2 linked regions of the Homo sapiens genome follow. The protein of the gene in region 1 interacts with the protein of each later gene in a pairwise test. Each region holds a gene or a part of one and is shown on either strand. Other genes may lie near its edges. The genes, in order: TCL1B and AKT2.

What was found.
Region 2: the proteins of TCL1B (region 1) and AKT2 interact in a two-hybrid assay, tested with the Homo sapiens proteins (one study listed by BioGRID).

The regions. Positions count from the first base shown.
Region 1 is NC_000014.9:95,689,308-95,693,294, reverse strand, and holds the end of TCL1B (T-cell leukemia/lymphoma protein 1B), read right to left. Parts: intron 2,560-3,987; coding exon 2,389-2,559; intron 2,028-2,388; coding exon 1,974-2,027; 3' UTR 1,959-1,973; intron 1,365-1,958; 3' UTR 667-1,364; downstream 1-666. UniProt on the Homo sapiens protein: Enhances the phosphorylation and activation of AKT1 and AKT2.
Region 2 is NC_000019.10:40,233,330-40,240,613, reverse strand, and holds part of AKT2 (RAC-beta serine/threonine-protein kinase), read left to right. Parts: intron 1-503; coding exon 504-569; intron 570-1,640; coding exon 1,641-1,709; intron 1,710-2,522; coding exon 2,523-2,645; intron 2,646-4,228; coding exon 4,229-4,357; intron 4,358-4,509; coding exon 4,510-4,724; intron 4,725-5,263; coding exon 5,264-5,351; intron 5,352-5,466; coding exon 5,467-5,569; intron 5,570-6,662; coding exon 6,663-6,742; 3' UTR 6,743-7,284. UniProt on the Homo sapiens protein: Serine/threonine kinase closely related to AKT1 and AKT3. All 3 enzymes, AKT1, AKT2 and AKT3, are collectively known as AKT kinase.

The sequences.
Region 1 (3,987 bases):
CTGTCTTTTGCTTACACCTGTGATTTACTTGGGTTTTTCTGTACCCCACGTTCATGAACATATTTCCCCAAACTTTCTATGAATGCTTTTACAGATTCATTTTGTAAGGTTGGGATTTCAGCCCATGGGTGATTTTTTCTTGTGAGCGACATGAGGGAGGGAATCTCTTCTCCTTGCCACCACTGCATGGTCACCCTGACCTGCACTGTATCGTCCTCTTCTTCCTGGTCACAATGGTGGCACTGCTCAGTGCCTTGGCCCCCTGCCTCATCCCTCCCTGCTCAAGGACTCTGCTCCTCTGTCATGTCATACTCTCCCACACATGGGCCCTTCCTCCCTTGCACCTGCATTCTGCATCTCCTGCAATGACATGCTGTTGCATTGTCTCGCTTTGGGAGCTCTCCCTTGCTCCCGGTTCTCCTGTGACCACTACGGGCTTTCCTGCCCTTTCACAGCAGGGCTTCACCCAGAGCCCGCACGAGTCTCCTCCCCTTCCTTAACTCCCGCCGACGTCCTGCTGCTGAATGGACCAATCACAATTTCCTTCCCAGTGTGGAAAAATATGAAATGGATCATTAAAATGTTACCTTAACATTTCGGTACCAGAAGCTGCCATTTCTATGCTAGAAAGAGGTCAAAGAGAGGCTCCAATTCAGCACAAAAGTGGACAGTGAGCAATAAAGTTTAATTAACCAGTACTGTGAGGTCACCTTCACGGACTAGCATCCCTTCCGTGAGCTGAAGGACTGAATAAGCAGAAGCACAGGCCAAACCCATCCCTCCATGCTCCCCACTGTGCAGATGGGCTCACTGAGGCTCTGGTGTACATTGCTTGCTCAGCACTGGATCTATTTCGGGCCAAAGTGTCAGCAGAACTGATACCCACAGGGCATCCAAGTCCACATCCAGACTGGGCTCCCTCTAATGCCATCTCTTAAACCGAACCACTGCCTGCCGATGGTGAGTTTCCAATCACGAGCTGCACTGGGGGTGCTGGAGGCCTGGCTGGGCACACATCCTGGTGGGTATGAAGGGGATTTGGGAGTGGCATCTAGAAGATCAGCATGAGGGGCACAGAGGAGAAAGAACCCACAGCTTGCAGCCAGCAGGGGAAACTGGCTCAGCACACAGACAGGGCCCCAGTGAAGCCCATCCAGGCCAGCTGCCCTAAGTACAGACCTGAGTGGGACAGGACAGGACTGATAACTAAGGAAAACGAGAGAAACTGAGTGTGCAGGGGCCCTACTGCCTTCTGCCTGCAAGGAGGCTATGCTGGGTGTGCAAACAGAAGAGCAGGTACATGAAGATCCTCACTGAGGGGGCATGAGGAGACACCAGGCCAGAAGAGGCAGGGCCAGCAGGGCCTGCGAGAAGACCAAAGGAGACAGTCAGTGAACTATGGGGGAGCCCGGCACCCCATCCAAGCTGCTGGGGTCAAAGGCAAGTCCAGTGCCAGCCCCTCCAATGGCCCAGGCCCTGCCTGGCCTGCTCCAAGCTGCTGCCCATCTGAGAGGAGCCCTCTATGGGTCAGTGCTGGGTCCTCCAAGGCCACCGTCACACGGCACCTCAGTGCCATGGTTAAATCTAGGGACCCGAGATCACTAGATTCACCGCTATTTCCTGGCTGTATGGTCTCGAGGAAGTCATTCCCATCCCCAGAGTCTTGTCTTTTCGTCGTGAAATGGGACATTAACACGTACACCTCACAAAATTCTCACAAGGATTAAATGATGAGTCTTATTCGATGAGATCCCATGCTTTAGGAACTTATTATGGGGGCCCACCCACTGTGTACCATCACATCCAAGGGGCTGGGGAACAGAGGTGACAGGTGGCTATGTAAGAAAAATCTCAGCAAACAGCAGGGAGGAGGAGGCCACGCCGTCTTTCTGAAAAGAGGAGAGGTCTTCTCACTTTCGTCTGATCCCTACACTGAGACGCACAGGGCCCCAACATACCAGCCACTCCCAGTGTCAGTCTTTCCTCTCCGGCTGATATGTTAGGACCAGCTGCTCCATAGAGTCAATCTGCAGGAGAGGGAGCAGCCATCAGAACCTCTGGGAGATGCTCTTCCAGTTGGCCTTAACGGCCGCCCATGCAGGCTGGCAGCAGCAGCAGGCAGGGGTGAGGCAGGTGGGAACTCCAGCTTGTGGATTTCCCTAGCCCAGGGAAGGCAACCCTCCCTCCCTCACCCACTCTGCCTGCATCCCACATGGGAACTCATGCACCGATCCACCCACACACACTCAGGCCTCCTTGAAGGAAGACTTGAGCAACAGGAAGAGGACAGACAAGAACCCCAAGGGGGCCAGGGGCACAGAAGAGAGAGGGCCACGGCAGTCACCAGGGGCCACCTGTCGCTTTCACCTAGAACCACCACACACTTGCCTGGCCATGGTCTGCTATTTCCCAGAAACTGGAATCCGCTGCTCGGTACTTCCTCCCGGGGTAGAGCTGCCACACGGCGGGCAGCTGGGAGAAGGGCATCTGGCCGGAGGAGAGTAGCTCCCGGGTATGCACTGCCATCTGCCACAAGTGCACTGTGATGCTGGGTTCATACTGAAGGGACCAGAAAAGAGGCGGCAAATCATGGATAGGGTTCCCTGCCAACTGGGCTGCACACAAGCAATGGCCAGTGGGCTGCCAGGGTCAGAGGTAAATGTTTTCAGAATTCCAGACCAAGAGCCTTGGCACTGGTACTTGTGGCTCCATCTAGGATGGCTGGGGCCCTTCTGGCCCCCTCTGACCTGCACCCTGCCTCGCCCCACTGCAATCCCCAAATTTAGCCACTGTTTCCAACCTGTCAACACCTTGGGTTAAAGCTGAGTATTCTCTTGGGGCTCCATCTCTGCCATTGCCGTAATTTTTTAAATCTTCGTTTTAAAAACAAGATATCCATGGACTCTGGATCTGAGGGTGATAGATTTTCCCGCCAAAATATATGGCAGTTCTGATCATGACCTTCACACACTTATAGTAAATATACGAAATAAGGCTGGGAGCAGTGGCTTATGCCTGTAATCCCAACACTTTGGGAGGCCAAGGCAGGAGGACTGCTTGAAGCCACGAGTTCAAGACCAGCCTCGGCAACATAATGAGACTCTGTCTCTACAAAAAATAAAAAATTAGCTGGCCATGGTGGCATGTGCCTACAGTCCCAGCTACTCGGGAAGCTAAGGTGAGAAGATTTCTTGAACCTGGGAGGTAGAGGCTGTTGTAAGCTATCGTCAGGTCACTGCACTCCAGCCTGGGAGACAGAGCAAGACTCTGTCTCAAAATAAATACATAATAATAAAAATAACAAAATTAGGCTGGTACTGGAAGTTAGAAAGATGATAGGAAAAGTAAAACCAAAGCTTCCTACGTTATGCAACAAAATGGAAAGTCTTTTGCACAATTTTCTAAGTATTTGTCTTCTTTTGTGATAAAATGTCTTTTTGAATTAAGAATATTAGTGCTCTATCAATCAGACATGTTGTGAATAATTTTTCTCAGTTTGTCGTCCTCACTTTTTTTATGGACTGCTTTTGCAAAGAGAAGTATTTTAAATTATACGGCAAAATCTCTCCTTCTCTGTGTATTCTGACTGTAGATCAGAGATCAGCAAACTAAGTCTGGCTTGCATCTGCTTTTGCAAATAAAGCTTTATTGTAAATAAACTAAGGCTCCTTCCCTCATTCCTTTACCGTTGCCTTTAGCTGCTTTTGCACTGCAATAGCAGAGCTGAGTAGCTGCAAGAGCATAGCTCTCCAAGTGGAAAATGTTTACCATCAGATCCTTTACAGAAAAAGGTGGCTGATCTTTGCATTAGATGTGTCGCCCAGGAAGCCTAATTCCCACCCTAAGACATCGATCTATTTTTAAGAAAGAAGGGGAAAAAATACTTACTAAGTAGGTCCCTTATCCCACCCGTGGCTAAGTTATTTGAAGAATCCATTCTATTTCCACTGAATCATTTAAAAAAAAAAAAAATCTTAACTGTTTTTT
Region 2 (7,284 bases), on another chromosome or scaffold:
TGTGAGACAGTGCTGGGCCCACCCCGAGTTTCTGACTCAGTGGGCCTGGGGGTAGGTCCCAGGAATTTGCATTGCTGCCAGTTCCCAGGCGGTGCTGAGGTGCTGTGTGGGGACCACACCAAGAAGCACTGTTTTTCCTTCTTTGGGCAAGAATGCTTTCTAGGTGGGACTTCCCACAGCCTGTGGTGGCACCTCGGGGCTCTCGTGATGTCTGTTTGTCTCCCTTGCAGGGACGTCACAGGTGTCTTGTCCCTAGCAGCCTGGTCCTTACATTGTGACATTCCTGCTGACTTTTCACCTGTGGCTTTGAGAGCCACTGATGATCCTCGTCTGGGTCTGCTATTTGCTGAGGGTTTGCAGGCTTTCACTTTTCACTCCTGTGATTTTCTGCATTTATGGCTGGGAATGGAATTGCATTTCACAAGGCCTTGCTCCCCTTCGTCGGGGCGGAGTGGGCAGGTGTGGTGTTGCCCACCAGCCCCTCACCCGCAGTCTGTCTGCAGGATGAAGTCGCTCACACAGTCACCGAGAGCCGGGTCCTCCAGAACACCAGGCACCCGTTCCTCACTGTGAGTTGCCCTCCCCTTCCCAGACAGTGTGAGGCCAGCCTTTGGACAGAGCTCAGAGAGAGAGCCCTAATCTTCTGGTACAAAGCACAGTCTTGGGGTAGGCCAGGCGGGCAGGGCAAGGTGTTGCTGCGCCCTGCCAAGTCATCCGAACCAAGACATGTGGTGGGGGTGAGCAGGCTCGGGGAGTGGGAGGGTGACAGCTTCTTCATAGATGGTGGCTTCATGTAAGCATTTGAACTAACTGAAGATATCACATTATTTGCTGGCTGCTGTCTCTATGAGTTAGGAGCACTTAGCCCAGCTGGTTGAAGTGGAAACATTATTTTTTTTGTTTTTGTTTTCAGATATGCTCATAGAAGCAGATGTGTTAGCATTGTGTTGTCTGTCAGCCTGGACTGAGTAGATGCCTGTTTGGGCTGCAGTCTCCATCAAGGCCAGTGGCCACCAGTTAAATGGACTAGATTGAGGATGGCTTATGTATCATTTCTTTATCTCAGTTGCTGTCCAGGTATCCTATTAAGCCACAGTACTTTTTCAAATAAAATCTTATGAGGTACCTCAGTGCAGAAAACAGAATAGTTGAGTTGTCATGAGCTGAAGGACCCCCTGGTGGGAGTCTCTGAGGAACTCTCTGTAGATCTCCTTAGTGCAGTGGAGAACTACTGTTTGTTGACTGACAGCCTGTCCATCCTGTCATTGAAGTTGGCTCCCAAGCCTTTGCCACTCCCAGCCACAGCAGACATCACTTGTGTGTGTAAGTTGAACACATTTTACTGTAAAAACAAGAGCCATGGTTGCTCAGAACAGCTCTAGTTCTCCCTTGGCTGTGCCTGATGGAGGCAGAGGACAAGATGGTTCAGCATGTAACCCTTTCCTACCGCAGAGCCATGCCTTCACTTAATGCCCCAAAAGGTGCAGCCGGTATGTGAACCCCATATGGCTGACTCCTGGGGGCCCCAGCCAGGGCAGGGTGTGTGTGTGCAGAATAAGCAGGGCCAGGGCCCTGCCCTGGCATGGCTCAGCAGAGCCCTCCTCCCTCCCACCTCCCACCCTGCTGCCTTCATCCCCCAGGCGCTGAAGTATGCCTTCCAGACCCACGACCGCCTGTGCTTTGTGATGGAGTATGCCAACGGGGGTGAGGTGAGCCGCGGCTGCCTTGACTTTGCCCTCTGGGGCCTCCTTCTTTAGGGTGGGGCGGGATGGAGAGGAGCTGTGGGTGAGATGGAAGGGTGGAGGGAAATTTCAGTGTCATCTAGTGCCCCTCTCCCTTGAGGCAGGCGGCTTCGTCTCCATTTTGGGGGGGCAGTCACTGAGGCTCAGAGAGGTTAAGTGGCTTGCCCAAGTTTACACAGCTAGTGAGTGGGTGGGTCAGGTCCAAACCAGTCCAGAGAGGTGTGGAGAGGGCTGTGGGGCGATAGCACTGGGAAGGATGGTCTTAAAGGCCCCAGAGAAAGCCCCCAAGGGTTAAAACCTAGCAGCCCTCCGTTCCCGTGTCCTCTCGAAGTGAATTCCCGCAGCCGCTCAGCTTCCCCTTACAGAGTCGCCTCACTTTTGTCACCCACTCCTTGCCTCGCGCCTTCTCTGTGCAGTGGTTGGCACACCTGCTTTGGGATGCGTGGTTTGCTCATCTGTCTGATCTGGGCTTGCCCATGGCCTATTGTTACTTGGTCATGACGTGTGCTTCTTTTTGCCTCCATGCCATCCTCCCTCCTGTCTCGGATGTCTCTCCCATACCCTCTCATGGGTGCCTCCTGGCAGACCCTCGCCCTTCCCCCCAGCTCTGTGTCACTTATGAGCTTCTGCGCTCTGCCTTGATTGGTCCCTCTAGCTGTCACTTGCTGGTTCATGATACAGGTGTCACCACATCACTGCGCTGGGGCAGGGGGCTGGGAAGGTGAGGGCAGGTGGGTGGGCTGGGGCCTGACCTCCTCTCCCCACCCCTTCCTCCTGCAGCTGTTCTTCCACCTGTCCCGGGAGCGTGTCTTCACAGAGGAGCGGGCCCGGTTTTATGGTGCAGAGATTGTCTCGGCTCTTGAGTACTTGCACTCGCGGGACGTGGTATACCGCGACATCAAGGTTAGTGGCAGGGTGTGCGCCAGGCTGACCTGTGGCATGCACACCACATGGGACTCACACTGGGGAAGTTGGGCTGAGCTTCTGCCCTCATTCGCCAGGCTCCCCACCAAGGTCCAGGGTGGTGGCTGCCCTCATTCGCCAGGCTCCCCACCAAGGTCCAGGGTGGTGGCTGCCCTCATTCACCAGGCTCCCCACCAAGGTCCAGGGTGGTGGCTCTGTGGCAAGTTGCCCCAAGTAGGGACCTTCCCAAGCCTCCCATGAGCGCTCCTAGGCCACTAGCGGAGTGTCAACTGCCACAATACCTACTTTATTTGTATTTATTTATTTATTTATTTTTGAGGAGTCTTACTCTGTTGAGTGCAGTGGTGTGATCTCGGCTCGCTGCAACCTCTGCCTCCCGGGTTCAAGCGATTGTCCTGCCTCAGCCTCCCGAATAGGTGGGATTACAGGTGCCCGCCACCATGCCCAGCTAATTTTTGTATTTTTAGTAGAGACGGGGTTTCATCATATTGGCCAGGCTGGTCTCAAACTCCTGACCTTGTGATCCACCCACCTCAGCCTCCCAAAGTGCTTGGATTACAGGCATGAGCCCCCGCGCCCGGCCAATTTTAGAAGATAGTTTGGCAGTGTCCACCAAAGCTGAGCACCAGTCATCTGCCCTAGCTGTGTGCACAGGAGAAGTGGGGACACACACTCACCTTAGAAAGTGTCCCCCTCACTCAGCAGCAGGACTTACTCTAGCCCCAACTGGAACAACCCAAGTATCCACTGTGAGAGGAACAGTCAGATCCACTGTGGAGTGTTCTCACAGTGGGACGCCACACAGCAGTTAGGAATGAGCTACAGCTACACACGACAGTGTGGACGCGTCTCATAGGCTAATGTCGAGGGAAAGCCGCACAGAGGAGGTGAGTCCACAGTTCACAGGTGTGTCTGTGTGCAGTGGTACAGATGGGAAGTAGAGGTTAATTCTTGTGGGGGATGGTCAGTAACCGGGAGGGGCACACAGGGCCTTCCAGGGGGAGATGCCACCTCAGCCTCGCAAGTAGCTGGGACTATAGGTGTGTGCCACCATGCCTGGCTAATTTTTTTTTTCATATTAAGAAATATGGAGATGGGGTCTCGCTGTGTTGCCCAGGCTGGTCTCAAACTCATGGGTTCAAGCAATCCTGCCACCTAAGTCCCCCAAATTGCTGGGATTACAGGTGTGAGCCACTTTGCCTGGCTGCATATTTCATAATTAAAGGACAGAAAGTCTAGAAAAAAAGAATAGAAGAAAGCTAGTGCCCCCACGTTCGAAATAAGAACCACAGTTCACAATGGGGACGGTGGGTGGACAGGGCCTGGCTCTCGGCTCTCCCTGCCCAGCTGTTCCCAGGTACCATGGGGGTGGGCCAGAGGGTGAGGAGGGTTGGATCTGGCCTCTCTCTGAGCCTCAGAGGGTGAGGCTGTGTGTGCTGGGCCCAGCCTGGCATGGGAGGGTTGATGTCCAGGAGCCCCGGGCATCTTTCCCTGGAAGGAAAGGCTGGGGTGGCAGGAAGCCTTGGGAGCATGCACCTGAGATCCGTTGACTTTTCCAACAGCTGGAAAACCTCATGCTGGACAAAGATGGCCACATCAAGATCACTGACTTTGGCCTCTGCAAAGAGGGCATCAGTGACGGGGCCACCATGAAAACCTTCTGTGGGACCCCGGAGTACCTGGCGCCTGAGGTGTCTGGGGTTGGTGGGGGTAGGAACGTGTGAGGCCAAGGGTAGGGGGATCCCCCAGACCTGTGTGTTTCCAGCCCAGATGCCCTGAGGGCAGGACTGTGATGCCAGCCTCAGGGCCACGGGCCCAGCCCTCATTTCTCCTCCATCCTCAGGTGCTGGAGGACAATGACTATGGCCGGGCCGTGGACTGGTGGGGGCTGGGTGTGGTCATGTACGAGATGATGTGCGGCCGCCTGCCCTTCTACAACCAGGACCACGAGCGCCTCTTCGAGCTCATCCTCATGGAAGAGATCCGCTTCCCGCGCACGCTCAGCCCCGAGGCCAAGTCCCTGCTTGCTGGGCTGCTTAAGAAGGACCCCAAGCAGAGGTGAGGGCTGGCGTCGGCCCCACCCAGCCCAGCGCCAGCTGCTGCCACTGTCCCTGCGGCCTGGAGGGGGCAGCGTCCACAAGGGTGCTCGCTTGTAGGGTCGCAGTGTGTCGTCCCCACACAGCCCCTGAAAACGTCCACAGTGGCACTTAGGGAGTGCTTCCCCCAGGGCAGGCCCATCCTTGACACTGCCTTATTTTATGGGGACACTGAGGAACAGGGCATCCCCTGGGCCTGGCTGGGGCCACCAAACCATATGTGGCAGAGCCAGGATAGGAACGGAGCCTGCCCTACTAACTCCCTTTCTGGACTCAGGGTAAGGCCAGGCAGTGAGGACACGTGGGTCCGGGTTGCTGACTCCCTGGCTCTGACCCTGGGCACGTGAGCTCCCTCCCTGAGCCTCGGTTTCCTCCTCTGTGAAGTGGTTTGTGGTCAAGACAGAATCATTAAGGGCCATACAGGGCCTGCCTGCTCCGAAAGCCCGTCTGCCCGAACCCAGCTGCTCCGGGAGGCAGGTGCTGACGGCCGTCTCTGCACAGGCTTGGTGGGGGGCCCAGCGATGCCAAGGAGGTCATGGAGCACAGGTTCTTCCTCAGCATCAACTGGCAGGACGTGGTCCAGAAGAAGGTGAGCCCCACTGCTTGCCCCAGCAGGACCCTCAGGGACCTGGCCCACTCGTGGTGACCTTGGTTGAGGCCTCCTGGCCTCAGGGTCCCTGAGCCTGAGCTCCTCTCCTCCGTAGCTCCTGCCACCCTTCAAACCTCAGGTCACGTCCGAGGTCGACACAAGGTACTTCGATGATGAATTTACCGCCCAGTCCATCACAATCACACCCCCTGACCGCTGTGAGTGCCTGGGGCCCCCGCGCTGGTGTGCCTGCCCCAGGGGTGGAGGGATGGGATCTGCTCTTAACTCACTTCTCAAGGAGGGCCCTCGAAGGCCCCCGCTTCATGTCTGGGAGATTTCCCCAAGTCTGCTCTCAGGCCCTTTTGCTGTTGGTCCTCTTTGGACCTGGTGAGGCCACCAGGAGCCATTGACTGCAGCACGTTCTGGAGCTCAGTCGGGGGGCTCAGGGCAGGAGGCAGCCCGGTCCCTGAGCCTGGCTGGGTTCACTGCTTTACAGCTGTTTGGGTTCTTACTCTGAACTCAGCCCAGGGCTGGGCTATGCTGGGGACACAGCACTGATTGAGCCAGCCCTGGGCCCTGCCCTGGAAAGCTCCCAGCCCAGGTAGGGTGGGCGGCCTGGAGTGGTCAGGGCTAGGGCGTGGGAGGCCAGGGACTGGGGAATCCCAGAGGAAATATCCGACCTGGCCTGCAGTTAGGGAGGGCTTTCTAGAGGAGGAAGCAAACGTGTCAGCTGGCCGGAGGAATGACGTGTGGGATGCCAGCAATGGGAGAAGCATGGCATAGCTAAGGACCGGCAGCAGCCAGGGAGATGGTGGTGAGAAGAGAGGGCATGGGGCTGGAGTGCAAGGGTCTGGGGGCCACTGGGAGGGGTGGGGACTGCTTGCATGGCGGGAGCCAGCCATGGAAGGGTTTCATACAGAGAGGGACAGGGTTAAAGCAGGCCTTTAGAAAGCCCCCCTGGCTGCCCGTGGAGAATGGATGGGAGGGTGCGAGAGGCAGGCCAGGACAGGGCTCTGGGCTGGACTCTGGCATGGTGGTGTGTGGGGCAGAGAGAAGGTGGGAGGCTCAGAAGGCCCTGCCAGCTGTGGGGCGCATGGGCAAGGGCACAGGAAACTCCCAGAGGAGGCCGCCCGGGGCTCAGGTTTGGGGAGTGGGTCCGTGGCTGAGGGCCTCCATTGCGGAGGGATGGGCCTTTCCTGTCCTGTCCTGTGGGCAGCCCCCGCCAGCTGGGGCCGTTTCCCCAGGGAGTCTGGGCAGGTGTCCCAGGCCCTCTCCTGACTGGTCCTCCCCATCCACCTCTGCCGCCCACAGATGACAGCCTGGGCTTACTGGAGCTGGACCAGCGGACCCACTTCCCCCAGTTCTCCTACTCGGCCAGCATCCGCGAGTGAGCAGTCTGCCCACGCAGAGGACGCACGCTCGCTGCCATCACCGCTGGGTGGTTTTTTCCCCCTAACTTTTTACTTAGCCTTTTTGGTTTGTGTCCCCACCCCCACCTCCTCACCCCCTTTCCAGTTCTTCTTCAGGCCCCTCCCAGACGCACCCCAGCGGCCCCTGCAGCCCCTGCCTCCAGCCTCCAGCCTCACCTTTGTGCCCAGACTCGCATTTGGAAGACTCCACCTCCCGCCCAGGCCTGGGCTGTTGGGCGGTTGGAGATTCAGGTTTTAATCCACACAAGCCCCAGTGAGGGGTGAAGCATGGCGCCTGGGGCCTGCCTGAGTTTCTGGCCTGGGTGTCGTGCTGGTGTCTGCCTCCGCGCTGCTGCATCTGGACGAAGGCTGCCTTCTGGTGGGACGCGACACCCGGCAGACAGTGGTGCTGCCTTCCAGGCCCCGTGGCCTAGGCTCGGAGTGGCCAGGCACGGGGCGGTCCAATCCCCCACCCGCTGTCCCCCTATGGGGGCAGAAAAGCAATAATGTCCAGGGGCAGGCAG